Linked DNA regions of Homo sapiens: region 1 is linked to region 2. The links come from fine-mapping of genetic effects on gene expression. A gene starts in region 2. The other region holds a variant in brackets. All regions are shown on one strand. Distances are from middle to middle.

The links.
Region 1: its variant is fine-mapped to the expression of CT55 in cerebral cortex (GTEx, PIP above 0.99). The same link has a PIP of 0.9 or more in amygdala, anterior cingulate cortex, caudate, hippocampus, hypothalamus and nucleus accumbens.

What each region holds. Positions count from the first base shown.
Region 1 is chrX:135,278,739-135,281,492 of GRCh38, forward strand. It overlaps a transcript of ZNF75D not described here. Among named protein-coding and RNA genes, the nearest start is that of ETDA, 28 kb to the left of the region's middle. The variant T/C (reference allele first, on the strand shown) is at 1,160.
Region 2 is chrX:135,170,069-135,172,822 of GRCh38, forward strand. It overlaps CT55 (cancer/testis antigen 55), which reads right to left and starts at 1,330. Exons shown (of 6, transcript NM_001031705.3): 1 at 1,010-1,330. The coding sequence starts at 1,103.

The sequences.
Region 1 (2,754 bases), 110 kb after region 2:
GAGATAATCATGTGGTTTTTGTCATTTGTACTGTTTAAGTGATGGATTATGTTTATTGGTTTGCATATGTTGAACCAGCCTTGCATCCCAGGGATGAAGCTGACTTGAAGGTGGTGGATAAGCTTTTTGATGTGCTGCTGGATTCGGTTTGCCAGTATTTTATTGAGGATTTTTTCATTGATGTTTATCAGGGATATTGGCCTGAAATTTTCTTTTGTGTGTGTGTGTGTCTCAGGTTTTGGTATCAGGATGATGCTGACCTCATAAAATGAGTTAGGGAGGAGTCCCTCTTTTTCTATTGTTTGGAATAGTTTCAGAAGGAAGGGTACCAGCTCTTATTTGTACCTCTGGTAGAATTCGGCTGTGAATCTGTCTGGTCCTGGGCTTTTTTGGTTGGTAGGCTATTAATTACTGCCTAAATTTCAGAACTTGTTATTGGTCTATTCAGGGATTCGACTTCTGCCTTGTGTAGTCTTGGGAGGGTGTATGTGTCCAGCAATTTATCCATTTCTTCTAGATTTTGTTGTTTATTTCCATAGAGGTATTTATAGTATTCTCTGATGGTAGTTTGTATTTCTGTGGGATCAGTGGTGATATCCCCTTTATCATTTTTTATTGTGTCTATTTGATTTTTCTCTCTTCTTCTTTATCAGTCTGGCTAGCAGTCTATCTATTTTGTTAATCTTTTCAAAAAAACAGCTCCTGGATTCATTGATTTTTTGAAGGGTTTTTCATGTCTCTATCTCCTTCAGTTTGGCTCTGATCTTAGTTATTTCTTGTCTTCTGCTAGCTGTTGAATTTGTTTGCTCTTGCTTCTCTAGTTCTTTTAATTGTGATGTTAGGGTGTCAATTTTTGATCTTTCCTGCTTTCTCCTGTGGGTATTTAGTGCTATAAATTTCCCTCTAAACACTGCTTTAGCTGTGTCCCAGAGATTCTGGTACATTGTATCTTTGTTCTCATTGGTTTCAAAGAACTTATTTATTTCTACCTTAATTTTGTTATTTACTCACTAGTCATTCAGGAGCAGGTTGTTCAATTTCCATGTAGTTGTGAGGTTTTGAGTGAGTTTCTTAATCCTGAGTTCTAATTTGATTGCACTGTGGTCTGAGAGACTGTTATGATTTCCATTATTTCGCGTTTACTGAGGAGTATTTTACT[T/C]CCAATTGTGTCGTCAATTTTAGAATAAGTGGGATGTGGTGTTGAGAAGAATGTATATTCTGTTTATTTGAGGTGGAGAGTTCTGTAGATGTCTATTAGGTCTGCTTGGTCCAGAGCTGAGTTCAAGTCCTGAATATGCTTGTTAATTTTCTGTCTTGGTGATCTGTCTAATATTGACAGTGGGGTGTTAAAGTCTCCCAATATTATTGTGTGGGAGTCTACATCTCTTTGTAAGTCTCTAAGAACTTGCTTTATGAATCTGGGTCCTCCTGTATTGGGTGCATATATGTTTAGGATAGTTATCTCTTCTTGTTGCATTGATCCCTTTACCATCATGTAACGCCCTTCTTTGTCTTTTTTGATCTTTCTTGGTTTAAAGTCTGTTTTATCAGAGACTAGGATTGCAACCCTTTCTGTTTGTTTGTTTGTTTCCATTTACTTGGTAAATATTTCTCCATCCCTTTATCTTGAGCCTATGTGTGTCTTTGCACGTGAGATGGGTCTCCTGAATACAGTACAGTGATGGATCTTGACTCTTTATCCAATTTGCCACTCTCTGTCTTTTAATTGGGACATTTAGCCCATTTACATTTAAGGTTAATATTTTTATGTGTGAATTTGATCCTGTCATTATGATGCCAGCTGGTTATTTTGCCCATTACTTGATGCAGTTTCTTCATAGTGTCGATGGTCTTTACAATTTTGTATGTTTTTGCAGTGGCTGGTACCGGTTTTTCCTTTCCATATTTAATGCTTCCTTCAGGAACTCTTGTGAGGTAGGCCTGGTGGTGACAAAATCTCTCAGCATTTGCTTGTCTGTAAAGGATTTTATTTCTCCTTTGCTTATTAAGCTTAGTTTGTCTGGATATGAACTTCTGGGTTGAAAATTCTTTCCTTTAAGAATGTTGAATATTGGCCCCCACTCTCTTCTGGCTTGTAGGGTTTCTGCCAAGAGATCCGCTGTTAGTCTGATGGGCTTCCCTTTGTGGGTAGTCCGACCTTTCTCTCTGGCTGCCCTTAACATTTTTTCCTTCATTTCAACTTTGGTGAATCTGACAATTATGTGTCTTTGGGTTGCTCTTCTCATGGAATATCTTTGTGGTTTTCTCTGTATTTCCTGAATTTGAATGTTGGCCTGTCTTGCAAGGTTGGGGAAGTTCTCCTGGATAATATCCTGAAGAGTGTTTTCCAACTTGGTTCCATTCTCCTTGTCACTTTCAGGTACACCAGTGAAATGTAGGTTTGGTCTTTTCACATAGTCCCATATTTCTTGGAGGCTTTGTTCCTTTTCATTCTTTTTTCTCTAATCTTGTCTTCATGCTTTATTTCATTAAAATGATCTTCAATCTCTGATATCCTTTCTTCTGCTTGATCGATTTAGCTATTGATACTTGTGTATGCTTCATGAAGTTCTCGTGCTGTGTTTTTCAGCTCCTTCAGGTCATTTGTGTTCTGCTCTAAACTGATTATTCTAGTTTGCAATTTCTCTCACCTTTTTTCAACGTTCTTAGCTTCCTTGCATTGGGTTAGAACATGCTCCTTTAGCTCAGAGGAGTTTGTTGTTACCCACCTTCTGAAGCCTACTGCTGTCAATT
Region 2 (2,754 bases):
CAATCTGGGCTAGCGGCAACCTCTGCCTCCTGGGTTCAGGTGGTTCTCATGTCTCAGCCTCCCCAGTAGCTGGGACTACAGGTGTGTACCGTCACACCCAGCTAATTTTTGAATTGTTAATAGAGACGGGGTTTTGCCATGTTGCCCAGGCTGGTCTCCAGCTCCTGGCCTCAAGTGATCCACCTACCTGGAACTCCCAAAGAGCTGGGATTACAGGTGTGAGCCACCGCGCCCAGCTTACGAATATTAACTGACACATGCACATCAACTGTCGAGAGCTCTGAGTGCCTTGCACAAGAGTGTGTAAATGTTACCTGTTAGCATTTCTACATATGAGTCTTTAAGCTTCTGCTCCTATTATATTCCTTCATCATTATCACCAACATGATGAGTAGCACCTTCTATAGATACTTAACCATCTCAGCAGACAAAGTACTAAAAGATATCTGGAGATTGAAGGCTAGCCCAAAACGGCATCTGAATGGTTTTCTTTATTTCTCCTTCTTCTTCTTCTTCTTTTTTTTTTATTCTGCACAAGCCTAGCTGATCAGCAATACTTAGGGATCAAACCTCAGCAGTCGCCGGCAGGGGTTCTCTGCCTTCCTTTGGGATCAGATAAGTATGAGGCATCAACTTGGCTTCAAATTACATTCCCGTTTGGGATACAAGCCTAAATTAACTCGCAAATTAGGGAGTTTCTCGCCTACTGGAAATATAAATAGGCATGTGCTGTGCGACCACGTGGGGGAAAAGCACAGGCGGTACAGACCCCAAGGTCTTCTCTGTCAACACCTTCCCGCTTTAGATGGACAGGAGAGTTTGGGGGTTGGTTCTCAGGGAATTGTTGAGGACTCGGGTTGCCTCGGGTTGCCTCCCCATGCACGCACAAGATGGAGCCACCGTCACGTGCAGTACCCACCCGAGTTACAACAGCCTCATTCCGGGGGTGAGGAGAACCCCTATTGGGAGGCTTCTGGGGTGGGGGACAAGGGGACACACAGAGGAATACCTTGTGGGAGGCCCTGCTGCTGTGGGCCCTGTCGCTCTGCAGGGTCGGCCGTCCTCCCGTAGAAGGCCAAAGCAAGTCTCAGAAGCCTGAGCATCGTCCCAGTTGTCACCACCGGCCTGGGCACCGCTTGTGGCAGATGAAGCACGAGGCCTCCTCAGTAAGGGAAGCCCTCAGGTCACGGCGTCTCCTCAGGGACTCACTTCCTGCTTCTCCTCAGACACTGTGGCATGGGACCCACCCGTTAGTGAGCCCCCCTCAGGAGAGTCAGGGACACCGCAGCCTCCAAAGGAGCTCCCAGCTTCTCCGCTGACTTCTCCCTCTGAGCATGCGCTCGTCAGGGCCCGCCTCTACCACTGTCCAACCAATGGGCGTGCAGTGGGTGGGCGGGCAGGTTCTTGTGGCTACTAAAAGGCGATGGGTGGGAACATCGTGGCTTCTCCCATCAAGGCTGAGGGAGCCATTAGGATGGCCTGGGGAAAATGGCTTGGGAGCTTGGGTTCTGCATTTACTAAGGAGATACAGGGCTCTTCTCTTGGGTTCCCTGGGAGGATGGGTGCCTGAAACACCGGCTGTGCAACCAAAAATCCTGCTCCTGCCCTTGTATTCGTGGTGCTTAGCATAAGGAGTCACCACTCAGTGGGCGGTCAATAGTTACTCCTCACCAGGGATCAATTTTGTGGAGAGAGGGCATCATGTGGGTAGGCAATGTTTTAGTGATGGCAAGTACGTGTCTTGTGTACTAGGACTGCCATTTTTAGTCCAGTGATAATTTATAATAGAATCCTTTTATGATCATTGCTACCATGTACTCATCGCTTACCTGGTTATGCTTACATTACTCTGATATACACATTACCCTTATTCATTCATTCAGCAAAACTTGTAGGGCACTAACTGTGAACCAGACACTGTTCTGTGTTCCTAAAATTTGTTAATGAATGAAAGAGTCAAGAATCTTCACCCTGTGAGGGTAGATTTTTCACAGGATGACGAAAGGGTGACACTAAACATCACATAATAAAATATATGGTATGTTAGAAGGCAATAAATGCCATGGAAAAATATAGCAGGACAAGGGAGATCCACAGTGCTGGGCATGGGGTATTGGATTGCACTTTACAATAGCATGGTCAGAGTAGCCCTCATTGGAAAGCAATAGTTGAGAAAGATGTTGGAGTTAGCCAGGCAGCTATTTTTGGAGGAGCCGTTCAGACGGAGGGCACAGTTTGTGCAAAGACCATACAGCAAGACTGTGCGTGATGTATTCAAAGAAAAGCAGTGATTAGAGCAGAGGCAGTGAATAGCTAGAAGAGTGGGAAGTATGGTAAGAGAGATAATAGAGGTTCAGGCTGCATGTGGGATAGTGGGGCACTGGAAGTCCTTTGGCTTTTATTGTCCATGACACGTAAAGTCCCTGAAGGATTTGGAGCCTCCAGGGATCACTCCAGGTGCTTGGTTGTGAACAGGCTGGAAGAGGTCAGAGCAGGAAGCAAGGAGAACAGTTTGGATGATTCTGATGCAATCCATGGGCACTGTGGATGAAACCTGTTTGTCTTTCCTCTCCTACTGTGAGAACAGGTAAGAGCATTGCTGAAGATTATCATCTGGTTAACAGGATCGGTTGAGGGCTATCTATGTCTCAAAATGTAACACAACTGTGTTAATTTCCTAGGGAGGCCACAACACATTACTACGACTGCGTGGCTTTAAACAACAGAAATTTATTCTTCTGCAGTTCTGCAGGC